Linked DNA regions of Homo sapiens: regions 1, 2 and 3 are each reported to be linked to region 4. Evidence: microRNA targets listed by miRTarBase, many of them from high-throughput screens and not tested one by one. Region 4 holds a microRNA gene; each other region holds the end of a gene's coding sequence.
The links. The annotated mature microRNA hsa-miR-3171 reads AGAUGUAUGGAAUCUGUAUAUAUC and lies in region 4 at 1,996-2,019, shown strand. An mRNA with a match to its seed (bases 2 to 7 or 8) in the 3' UTR can be bound and repressed. Matches are read on the target gene's strand: a 7mer-m8 pairs with bases 2 to 8, a 7mer-A1 pairs with bases 2 to 7 and ends in A, and an 8mer does both.

Region 1 (3,218 bases), not on the chromosome of region 4:
ACAGTTCTTTCTTCTTAACATTTTTACCATGCCTCAAGGATTCTTTCTTGTCCCCCCAACCCCCCAAAAAATGTTGTTGCTCAGGAAACTTAAATAGGCACTATTTTAGGGGAAAGAAAGTTGGCAATGATCTTTTGTTGCAGAGACATATTAAAAGAGTGACAAAACAAAATGCCTGCTATTTTGGCATTTGCCATTTGGTACATATACAATGTGACAATATATGAAATTCCCTCAGGAAGCAACAGCTCTCAGATAGTTGCATCCCTAAAATGATTAAATTTCATCCATTTATTTTTGTGGCATCAAAACTACGCCATATTTAAAGAGTCTCTTACTTTTTCTCCTTTCGATGAAGGACTCTTCTGAGGAAGATAAGGAAAAAGAAGAGGTTGCTGCTGTCAAAATCCAAGCTGCCTTCCGGGGACACATAGCCAGAGAGGAGGCAAAGAAAATGAAAACAAATAGTCTTCAAAATGAGGAAAAAGAGGAAAACAAGTGAGGACACTGGTTTTACCTCCAGGAAACATGAAAAATAATCCAAATCCATCAACCTTCTTATTAATGTCATTTCTTCCTGAGGAAGGAAGATTTGATGTTGTGAAATAACATTCGTTACTGTTGTGAAAATCTGTCATGAGCATTTGTTTAATAAGCATACCATTGAAACATGCCACTTGAAGATTTCTCTGAGATCATGAGTTTGTTTACACTTGTCTCAAGCCTATCTATAGAGACCCTTGGATTTAGAATTATAGAACTAAAGTATCTGAGATTACAGAGATCTCAGAGGTTATGTGTTCTAACTATTATCAAATGAATAAATCCTCTCTATCACATCCCCCAAAAATGTTCTTTAGCTCCTGTTTCACTCCTAGTGGTAAAGAATTTCACTGCTTTTTAAGGATAGTCTATTTAATTTTGGAATTTTTAGAAAGATAAGCTGGGACAAAAATCTGCCTCCTTCAGCCTGGCCAACATGGTGAAACCCCATGTCTACTAAAAGTACAAAAATTGGCCAGGCGTGGTGCGCACACCTGTAATCCCAGCTACTCGGGAGGCTGAGGCAGGAGAATCGCTTGAACCTGGGAAGTGGAGGCTGCAGTAAGCCGAGATCGCACCACTGCACTCCAGCCTGGGCGACAGAGCAAGACTCTGTCTCAAAAACAAAACAAAACAAAAAAAAGCCTCTGCCTCCTTGTAAGTTTAACCCACTGGTTTTCATTTATCATACATGTATTCAATCATTTATTGAAAATGTATTGAGTACTATTCATGTGCTGGGAATTAGTAGTGAATACTTGTTCTTACACTCATACAACTTACAATGCTTTATTGTTTTGCTCTCCAGAACCACACAGAACAAGACTAATAACATCATATTGTAAAAAGCAAAAGCTATCATATCATGCTGCCTTCTTCAGTTAAAACTTCCCAAGTTTTTAAATATACAATGGTAATGCCTGTTTAACAAACTCAGAGGCTTTATCTCTTTTATGTTTTCAATGATTCATTCAAATCCCTAGTGCCTTAGTTTTAGAAAGTTCCGTCTCTCCTTTTTGAGGCCTCTCCACCCTTGATTGTCCAAGAAACTGAGGGTTCATGTCTTAGACCAAAGGGTGCAGTTCTCTTCCCAATACAAAAGGTAGAAAGTGGAGTCTTACCATTTAGTTAATGCTGTTGCCTTCTACCATAATGTTGTAGCATAGTCCAGCAGACTGAGGTGATTCTCTGGCTGGTTCCAATTCCTGCCTGCACCATAGTGGATGGCCCATGATTTAGTTCCAGGATTACATCTCTCTTGGTTTATAGTCACAAAGCCAGTGTTCCCCCAAAGCTTAAAAACAAGCCAGGATGGCTCAGTCCTGAGGAGATTCTAAAACCAGGTCTATGTTGTCACAACAAATACTCTCCTACAAACACTTTGATCCTTGTCCTAGGCTTAGACATGCTCTTTCTGCAAAGCAGTTTTATTTCAGGTGCCTCACTGCCCTTCCCTGGCACTGAGCCTTTATCAGGCTCTGCAACAGAGGTTCCCCCAAGTGATCGCCACTCAAACACAGTTGATTCACACCAACCCTTTCAAGGTTGTGGCTTTCATTCTCTAATGTCCACTCATACAGGCAGCCTTTCTCCTTCCAAAATCTTGCTGCCACTGTAGAGAGTTTCATGCTAGCTAAACACAAGTCTCTAATATCCCCCTTCCTCTCCTCCTTAACCCCTCTCCTCCAGGCTTACAGAGGAAAAGAAATCAGTTCTCCTCCAGGATTCCAGCTGTTCGTCCCTCCCATTCCACTGAAAGCACCAGCTTCTAACACCTTCCCCTCTCAGACAGAGCCATCCTGCTTAGCGGATTGTCAAGGGGGGACCCAGAATTTATGCAAAGACTTAGATTCCCTGACCTGGAGAGATCAGAAGAGGAAAAAAGGGATTTTTTCCCTAGTGAGTATATAGCAGGAAAAAAAAAAAAGATGAGTTAGCTTTTTCAGTAATTCTCCTGTTATACACATAAAGTGACTAGCACTATGCATTCCATACACACACACACACACACACAGATCTCATGGTAGTGATATTGGTAGTGAAGGAGGAAAAGGAAAAGGTGAGCAATGGATGTGATATTATGAGAACAACACATATGAATGACACTTTATTAGAACTTATCTGGTTTTCCTCTTATCTCTCTGGCTGTTCCTTCTCAATTCCCTTCACTGGTAACTCTTCAACTCCCCAACCACTAAATGCTAAGTGCCCTTAGGCTCAGTCTTTCGACCCCATTTCTACACTCACTTGATTTCCTGCAGTTTCATAGCTTTAAAATCCAATCTTCTTAATGATCACTCCCAGACCTTTCTCTCCTCTGCCTGCGAACTTCTATATTCAACTGCCTACATAACATCCCCATTTGGATGTCTATAGGCATCTCAAAAGTAACATATAAAAAATGAATCCTGATATTGCCCCCAAATCTGAAACTTCCCCCACACCCAAGTTTTTCCATTCAAAAATGGCTGCTCCATTCTTCCATTTGCTCAGGCCAAAAACCTTGGATTCATCTTTAATGCGTCACTTTCTTTCACACCCCATATACAATCTATCAGCAAAACCTGTGGGCTGTACCTATAAAATAATACTCAGAATCTGCCTACTTCTAACCACTTCCATTGTTACCGCCTTGGTCCTAGTTCCCATGATAGCCTTGTGAATTATTGCAATAA
Region 2 (3,000 bases), not on the chromosome of region 4:
TTTTGATCATCTTTCAAGGATAAGGTCCAGAGCATACTCACTCACTCTCATCCAACAGCAGAGGAAGAAGGATCTGTCCAGACTGCTGGGCTCCTTACATGGGCATTCTTGCCTTTTGTAGTGTAGCCCTGGCTGTTGGGCAGGGCTAACATCTATAAGAAAAACATACCAGGGCAGGCAGCACTGTACTTTTCCACCTGAAAGATGAGCTAGTGCCCATGGCTGGGTCACTGTAGGTCCTGCATGAACTTGTCCACCAACTGTGTTTTGCTGTTTGGGTTGTAAATTAACCGTGAATACAAGTAACCAAGAAAATCCTCTCCACAGACCAACTCTTCAGCCAGTGCATGCAGGGCTCTGGAGGTGATGCCAGCAGGATCTGGAGGTGAGGCACTGGGTGGTTTCTCAGACACCCGGAGATGGCTTCAGCCTGGGCCGCCCCAGCTGCCTAGTGCACTGGTGTCCCTCCAACACAGGCTACTCCCCCAACACCCATGTGCCACCAAGTTTCTCAACTGCACACGCCAGATGCGCGTTTTACGAGAATCAAATGAGTATTTATACTGTATATGTGTGTGTGTATATATATATATATAAATTAATCTGCACGTATATAAACACTAAAAGGAGAAATTCCAAGTGTCTGTTCTCTGAAGGAAAGCAATCACTCGCCATTCTTGGCAATTCCTCAAAGGTTTTTGAGACCAAACATCTTTACTCCCCAAATTAAGAATACAAAAATAGGCTGCAAAACTTGCCAAGTACTCACAAGTCCCTGTTTGAGACAAATAAGATGTGGTCCCTATTGGGACAGGGAGGGCAGAAGATGACACTTTAGAAGAACATGATTTTGGTTTCAAAAGCAAGACCTCTCCTGGAAGGCAGAAGGGGCCACCGCCATGCTTGTCCTTGGAGCCACATGAGCACGGTGCCCTGCCAGGTCCAGTTCCCTGGGTAGGGGAGAAGGACGGTCCCTAAAACACCACCAGTGCTTCTTGCCCAAAGCCCTTGCCCTCTCTCTGGGGTCTTCTAGCACTGTCACTCTGCCCAGCCCAGGAGGTGTCTGTGCCCACGAAGCCTGGTACTTGTGGCTTGGCACTCTGGGAAGCAGGTGGTTTCTAAGAAATGAGCGGAGCTACAGGTGGACAGGTCTTTAGTTCGCCCCTCTTTACCAGCTACTCTCAGAGCAACCGGTCTTGGGGAAATTGAGGATTTACCATTTAGAACAGCTCTGTAAGCAAGTTTTCTAATTTTCAAAGGCACCATTTCCTGTAATTTTCTCAATTCAAAAAAGGACATGAGGGTTAGGCTAAAGTAGAGTTCTTGTTTCCAAGTTTGGGGACATAAATATAAAACTTTAAAAGCATCCTCACAAGGACCAGTGATGCCCAGCACCCTTGGGCATGCATCCAGCACACCGGCCAGACCCTGGGGTGGGAGCCACGGGCACTCTGGGTGTTCTGCCAGGGATCTCTGCATGCAAGTCTTTGTGCTAAAGACCACCCTACCTCTGATAATTCCAAGAAGTCAACAAATCCCTCCAGCCTTCACCCTTACTAATGGGCCAGTGTGTTATTCCTTCCCAAACCATAGGAGGCTCTGAAATGAGTGTGGAGAAAGGGCTCTGAAAACCGCAGTGGTCAAAGCTTCAGGCTGTGGCTATAGATTTCCACTTACGTCCCTACCCCATGTCTTTTTTCCATCTTTCTCTCACTCCAAACATGTCTAGATTAAAAAAAAAATGCAGGCACATAGGTCAGCACATTAGGCTTAACAACAAATGTTTCTTTAGTTGATCTGATAACTGAAAAGTTATGGTCCATGATTCAAACTCCCATGAAAAAGCAGAATTACGGTAACAACTAAAGAGAATGGTAAAGCATCCAACGCTAATCACATTGCCAGTCCATTTTTTGAACTGAGGGTTACAGCAGGTTCTGCACTGAGTAGCCCACAAGGCAAAGCAAGCCTGACATGAAACGTAGCCGGTCATCACTTAATGCAGCAGAGATCTCTTCAAAGGTACTGCTTCCTTGAGGAACACAAAGGGGGCACAAAGGGGTTCCAGACGTAGCTTTGTGCCTATAACTTCCCTGCCTGACTGTGGAAGGTGAGGGGCACCTGTGACCCAGCAATCCCCAGAGAACAGACACAGGTCATTTTTAGAGATGACGTAACTGACAATGCACTGCTTGGCTAACCAAAGTTTCTACGTAATGACAGTGTTGATAATCTGATGTTTTATTTAACATATAGAGGTGGATGTATATGTTAAAAGCTTGATTCTGTGTCTATGAATATGACTATGAACTCTGAACTATTTTATCCATTGGAAGGTAAAGGAAAGGTCCTACATTGTGGGAGGAAGAACTGATGAGAACCCCATCTTGCTTGCTGCTTGCTTGGTGGTGGGCAGGCCGAGGGTAGCGGCAGGCTCTGGGCTGTCTGCGAGGATTCTGGAAGCTCTCCCAGGTGCCCAGCAGCCGGGCATGGGAACGGCATGTGGCAGCAGAGAGTCGGGTTTGGCTCTTCCACGTGGCAGGCGGTTTCCCAGACTGGCCAGTCCTTCACATTAATCAGATCAAATTCAGTCTGTTTCTGAGAAGAAAACACATGCCTGTCACTCTACGGCAGCTGCCACCACCTGCCCCCCAGGCAGCCTGGTCCTTGCTATACCAGGGTGGCATCACTGGCTTTGAGGACCTCTTAATTCCATGAGCAATGAATGGCCTTCTGCCACCCACTCCCCCACCCTCCAGCCTGAGGGAATGTGGGTTAAGGACAGGATGCTGGCTCAACCTTGTAAGGCCATCAGACTCTCTGAGAGACCCTGCTAAACCCTAGGCCTAGCAGCAGGAGCAGTGGTTTGGCCTCTCCAGGCCCACTAAATCCCCCTAGCTCCCCAGGCTTCCGCCACCACCGTCTCTGGAGTCCTGTCCTAAAATGCTTCATCCTGCCCTCTCCTTCCAGGCTCTCCAGAACATACTGTTCCAATATAAT
Region 3 (3,218 bases), not on the chromosome of region 4:
CTTCCTGATCCTCTATGTCGAACCCTTGCCAGTAAGTGGTTGGGTGGGGCTTGGGACCAGCCACCTCCTTCCAGGGGAGGCTGGAGGCGTGACACGTCTTCCCTGTGTGTCAGCTCATCTTCCAGATCACACCGCTGAACGTGACCCAGTGGCTGATGGTGCTGAAAATCTCCTTGCCCGTGATTCTCATGGATGAGACGCTCAAGTTTGTGGCCCGCAACTACCTGGAACCTGGTAAAGAGTGTGTGCAGCCTGCCACCAAATCCTGCTCGTTCTCGGCATGCACCGATGGGATTTCCTGGCCGTTTGTGCTGCTCATAATGCCCCTGGTGATCTGGGTCTATAGCACAGACACTAACTTTAGCGATATGTTCTGGTCTTGACTGACAGTTTTCCATAAAGAAGATGTTTAACTTAATCAATTAATTTTTTTATTGTTTAAAGCAACTGTCTATTTCTGCTGAATTTTCACATGAACATACTGGCTGGTGATGGAGGTTTCATACTCTAGATTTTGTTTTGCTTTTTCTGACTCCAGTGGGGCAAGATTTTCCTTTTTTATACACATAATTAAAGTGTCCATTGACATGTACAGAGAACTAACACTATTTTATGCAAATATTTTTTTGTAGATGAAAAAGCATGTACAGTGTTCTGTTTAATACTCATCCTTGTATAAAAAAAATAGTTGAGCCAGCAGACATTGTCAGCAAATTAATTGGCAGCAGATTTTAGGAAATGAATGTGTGTGGTTTTTTTTCTAAAACTAAATAGCATGTATTGTGTCTTTTGCATGATGATCCGGATTTAATTTGATATCACAGTCTAATTTTTATTCATAAGCCAATTTTTCTGCACTGAGCAGAGTCTTGCTACCTCAGTCAGTATTGTTTTGGTTTGCTACTTCCCTCACCCACTTTGGCCTCCGTTCACCCCACCCCACCCCACCTCTCCCCACCTTACCCCCGCCCCGCTTGGCTTCTTCTTTAGGATTGTGATGGTTCGTTCTGTTTACATCAGTTTTAACGAGAGGTATGCCTGTACTCGCTTGTGCAGAAAACATTGTTCCAGATTCAATCGACTGGGTTTATGTCCCTTCACATAGTTTTTAAGGTTATTTATTTAAATGTCTAATGTATTTTATTGTAACAGACATTGTTTTGCCAACATTGCCTATTTCAGTGGCACGTCATCTAGTTTTAAAAAAATAAAACATTTTAAATGGACAGAGAAAAATAACTGTCTTGTCTTTAACTCGTAAGTGGCTTACCTGGGACTAACAGACATGTCCAACTTTCTCTCCAGTTCTTAGCTCAGAACTTTAGTTGTACTCTGCTTGAGGGGAAGAAGGCTCCTGCTCTGCTGTGTAGGTAGTCATAGGAATTGTATTCTTAATGTACAGGCACTAATTGTCATCTGTGATGTACATTTTATGCAAGTTTCTGCTGGCCTGGTATAGAGAACATAAGGGCAAGTGTGTATGTGTGTGTATGTGTGTGTTTTGTAAAATCTGTAAATAGCACATGACCAAATGAACATATTGTATAGAACTATTTTTATTTGAATGTGGCACTAACCACCACCACCGTTACTACGATCAATGTTTGCGCATGTTCGAGATGAGTCTCACCAACAGTGTGTAAGTCATTAACAGTCCTAACTGTGGTGTTTTCCTCCAATGCCTTCCAACATCCATCAACTAACGTGAGTATTTTCTTCCTGGGATTTGGATGCTTTAGCCTAAAGGTGACTGCCACCAAGTGAGATAACTGTATGTCACTAACTTATAAGCCGCCTCCATGGCAGATGCTGCTGTGCTCCCTGATGCCCTGTGAGCACCGGGGTTGCCTGTGGCGCCTGCCATGTGACTCGGGCGCAGCATCAGCTGGCTGGAGGTGTGGCTTTCATAGACCTCCACAGGCTGCCTAGGACAAGATGACCAGGAGGGCCCAAGCCAGACAAAAGCCGGAGTGGGGAGAGAGGCATTTCAGCCAGACCAACAGGCTGAAGGAGCTGTGCAGACTATTGCTAAAATGAGGGTTCGCAGCTGCCAGGAGTCATCCCAGAACATTGCTACTTATTTATTAAAAAGCTAAAAACTAGTGAAAGCAAGTAACTGAACCAGTGAACTCTGGGTATCGATAGGTTCGTCTTAAATAGGCCACTTCCCCACTCCCCCACCCCCCCTTGCTTGGTCTTGTCCTTGGTGGCTAAGACTTAGCTCTGCAGGGGATGTTAAAGCACAGTTAGTAGGACGTGGCTCTGCACAGCCCAAAAACCAGCTTACTCCTTAGCCAGGGTGTGAGGCCTCGACTATATTCTTCAAAATGTACTTAGGCTCTGGTTACTGGGATGGCCAGTAGATGTAATGCAGATGGTTGGAGTTTGGGGAGGGTTAGGAGGCATCAAGCAGGACAAGGTGCTGCTGAGTTCAGAGGGCCCACGTTCAAGGGATGGAGGTGGAACCTGGAGACCGACTCTTAAAAGCACAGTCCGTGGTTGGGTGTGGTGGCTCATGCCTGTAAGTAAGTCTCAGCCCTTTGGAGGCCACAGCAGAAGGATTGCTTGAGCCCAGGTACTCAAACCAGCCTGGGCAACAGAGTGAGGCCCTGTCAAAAAAAAATCAGCCTTACTGTGAAGCCTCCAAGGCTGCTCGCAGGCAGCTGTGGCTCTCGGGAAGGGAGGCTGCTTTGCCCAGCAGGGAACATTTGGGGCAGGGGGTAAATTTTGCCAGTTTGAGCATCATGAGGTGTAACAAGAAATGGGTTGAATGGGCCAAATGCAAGGAGTGCATCTCTGGGCTGCAAACTGACTTGAGTGCTGCACTATTGCTATTCCGTGCAAACAAAACTCAGCTTTTCCTGACTCAGTTCCTTGACTTAGTGGCCTTTACAAAAAAAGTTGAGTAGTGTGTGGCCTGCTGTCGCACAGCCCCTAGTTAGCTTCATGGTTTCTCAGCTTCAGACCCCTCCAGCCCACAGAGGAGCCCATGGAGGGACCCACTTCCCTTGGTCCAGACAGCTGGGAGTGGGTTAGGCCCACTGCTGTTTTGAGCAGGGCCACTTGCTCCATTTCACTGAAGGCTTTGCTGGGTGAAAACACTTCAGCATCTCCTCCTCAGGTCAACCCATAAAGACCAGGTCCAGCACCGTGGTCTTGGCACATCCCTGGCCTCAGGCCCTCACCTAACAGTGAGGCAGCAGCTGCCCAGCCCCGCA
Region 4 (3,218 bases):
TGCTGATAAAGCTAGCATTATGTAAATGTTACTAGTTACTATAATCAAAGAAATGCTCCTATGCAGGCATATTCCCTTTCCATTCTATGAACACACACACACACACACACACACGCACATATTATTCATTTTTAGAAATGAGCCTAATCATATATATATAATACATACATTATATATATATATACAAGAGACACAGCTTTAAATTATACAGAATGACAGTTTACTAAGTTGTCATAGAGCCTGCTATCTGAGGGGAAGAATATTGGATTCTTTCTATAGCCAACCAAAAAAATAAAAAATAAAAAACAAAAAACAGAAAGCCCCTCCCTCTAATGTTTTTCATTTAAGTCCCAACTGTGCTGTAGCCTTTAACTGTGTAAGACAGCAAGACAGCACATTTTGTAGATTAAACCAATAAACTCACAAACATAAAAGAAACAAATCTCATAATTGCGGATTTCAATTAAAGGAAGGGGGATCAACGCAAACATTCTGCTGGAAATTACACAGCTGCTATCTATACAAAATGAGAAAAATGTCTAGAGCCAGCCATAATTTTACAGACGGAAAAAAAAAACCATGCAGCAAACCCTGCAGTAGGACAGATTGTCTATGCTCCTCACGTCCCAATCAGTAATACAGAAATATTGAGTAATAAATTCCCTGCCTCTCTCGATCTGAAAAGCTCCCACCATCTGTGAAAGACAATTTGTAACAGCCTCAATATTAAGATTCAGTAAACAGACAATCACTCCCCTTGTGCCAAGCCGTGGCTACATTTGGATAAAAGCATAAAGCAAAACAATTAGTAACACCAAGACCCCTCTATTACAAATTATCGAGCCACCAAAACAACTAGTTTCAATTGCAGTTTCCCTTCTACTGGAGAGGAATGCAGGAGATTCTGCATATTTGGCTACCTCTGTGGCCCATGCGTAGGCCTCATCCTGATGCGTTGAATTATTATTGATGGCTGAGGCAGTTCTGCTCTGTTGGTGAACCAATAATGTCAAGGCACCACCTGCAAGATTAATTATAGGAGAGAATAGGCTGAGGTTTCTCGGGACTGAGACATTAATATAGACTGAGCATTAGTTTCAGGGGATTCAACAGACAGCTGAACTAACGCCTCGAACAACGTGATTCGCACTAAATCCCGGTAGCTGTATCTTAGCAGCATGTGGAAGCTTAGAACAATTGTTTTTAACTATGAGGTGCAGCGCATTATGTATAATAAAAAAACCCTAAAATACAAAATCAACAATTCTACCTGAGTTACAAATTCAACCTGGGCTTTGCGGAGAGCATAGATGATACTATTTCACCACAAAGAAAAGATGACGCCACTTTCCTCATGCGTTTGTCCTTGGGACATGTAAAATATGTTCTTATTTACTGTATTTTCTAGGGTTTTGAGTAGGGTGACAAATCTTCCTGGTTTTCCTGGAAAAATCTCAATTCACACTTGGTATCCTGGAGTGATTATTAAAAGCACACACATTTTATTCTTAAACTGTCGTGGTCTGGATGATAAGTTATACAGTCACTTTAGTTCTAAGGCATATGGAGCCTGAAGCATTTACTCACTGTGGCTATAGCCATCTTTTATGTAAATATTTTATTTGCTTATGATATGCAGATATTTGTACACTTTCTTGGAAATAAAAATTTTAAAGAAGCTGAAGTGTGAAGTTAAATAGAAGGATATGCTACAGTTTTAATCTTAATGAAATTTAACTTGGGGCTTCTACCTCACTTTGCCAAATTCAAAGTTTTATTATATACAGTTATATTATATATGTGTGTATATATACATAAATGTATATACAAATATTTATATATATGTATATACCCATATGATATCAGGTAACATTCATTTGATTCTTAATTCTTAATCTGTACTAGACACTCATCAAAGGATTTTACATATACTAATTCTTGTTTTATAGATAGATAAATGGATATATGTGTGTAAATATTTATGCATATATATAGAGATGTATGGAATCTGTATATATCTATATATATGTGTATATATAGATTCCATAAATCTATATATGTATGTGTGTATATATATGTAAATACATATAAAATATGTATGGAATATCTCTCTCTATATATATACTCTATATTCTCTCTATATATATTTTATTAATATTTTCAACTGAGAAAAGTGAGGCACAGACGGATGAATTATCATGTTCATGGTTACAGAGTGAGCAAATAGTAATGTTCAGATTCAAATTCAAAAACTCTGTCCTTAGTGTCCAGTCGGTAACCAGTGAAAAAGCTGTCTTATAATTCATATATGTATGCATTTAATACATGCATTGCAGAGGTTTCTGTATCAGTCTCACTATTTAAATCATCTGGAGTATACCAGAGAAAACACACCATGGTAGCAAAACTAGTAAGCCTGGAGAATTACAACCATGCCCTGCTGAATTTGTTATTGTAACTAGGAGGCTATTTTGTATTCTAATATAGAATAGTTATCTCAAAATAATTTATTTTACTTTGCAAGTTAATGCTATTCTCTACTATCTCTCTATTCTCCTCCCAGCAGCAATCAAAAGGAACTTGAAAAAAAATCCAGGATAGATTTGATCTATTTTCTTAAAATGTCATGACTGTGGAGCGTATGATAGTTAGAAATAAGTTATCAGGCATCTCCACACGAGTAAAGACAAATGTCTTTGTCAGTTTTAAATAGACAGGGAGGAACACTTTGCTTGCGAAGGAACCTAAATTCCAAGTAACTGGAAGGACGGCATTTATATATATGTATACATCACCTATCACCCGCACTCCTGTTTAGAGTGTTTCAATAGAAAATTTATAATTAAAAGGTCTTGTAATCTGAATACACCATGTACAGTTATGCATGTTAAGAGTCTGTCTAGTTTTATTGATGTTATTATTTCACATGAGGAAAACACAAGAATAGAAACAACACATTTTGCTAACCAGAGAAGATGGGGAGCAAGGGTCAACCTGTCCATGAGATTCTTTCCACAGAGCCTTAGATCACATTTAAAAGACTAAGTAAAGCAAAGTTTAGAAAGATTCTCTTGCTTTTCTAGCATTCCATAGTTGTGCCTGCCTCCAGGAGATTTTTCACAACAGTTGATAAAACGGTCCTCTTTCTATGGCTCTCCATCCTAAATATACTCTTTAGTTATTAAATAAACATTATGTTTCAGTCACAGTTCAACACT

Region 1: miRTarBase lists SPA17 as a target of hsa-miR-3171. The part of its 3' UTR that is shown has no 7-base or 8-base seed match.
Region 2: miRTarBase lists ZHX3 as a target of hsa-miR-3171. Seed matches in the 3' UTR shown: 7mer-m8 at 2,262-2,268.
Region 3: the mRNA of ATP2A2 is a reported target of hsa-miR-3171. Seed matches in the 3' UTR shown: 7mer-A1 at 1,013-1,019.

Annotation. Positions count from the first base shown.
Region 1 is chr11:124,693,945-124,697,162 of GRCh38, forward strand. It overlaps SPA17 (sperm autoantigenic protein 17), which reads left to right. Exons shown (of 5, transcript NM_017425.4): 5 at 359-3,218. The coding sequence ends at 502. Among named protein-coding and RNA genes, the nearest start is that of SPA17, 22 kb to the left of the region's middle.
Region 2 is chr20:41,182,604-41,185,603 of GRCh38, forward strand. ZHX3 (zinc fingers and homeoboxes 3) reads right to left here. Exons shown (of 4, transcript NM_001384317.1): 4 at 1-2,598. The coding sequence ends at 2,588. Among named protein-coding and RNA genes, the nearest start is that of MIR6871, 15 kb to the left of the region's middle.
Region 3 is chr12:110,346,088-110,349,305 of GRCh38, forward strand. It overlaps ATP2A2 (ATPase sarcoplasmic/endoplasmic reticulum Ca2+ transporting 2), which reads left to right. Exons shown (of 20, transcript NM_170665.4): 19 at 1-31; 20 at 114-3,218. The coding sequence ends at 383. Among named protein-coding and RNA genes, the nearest start is that of ANAPC7, 56 kb to the right of the region's middle. RefSeq lists an enhancer at 3,106-3,218.
Region 4 is chr14:27,632,047-27,635,264 of GRCh38, reverse strand. MIR3171 (microRNA 3171) reads left to right here and starts at 1,987; the gene lies at 1,987-2,060. All of the region lies in intron 2 of MIR3171HG (MIR3171 host gene), which reads left to right. It overlaps LINC00645 (long intergenic non-protein coding RNA 645), which reads right to left. Exons shown (of 5, transcript NR_039992.2): 4 at 921-1,021.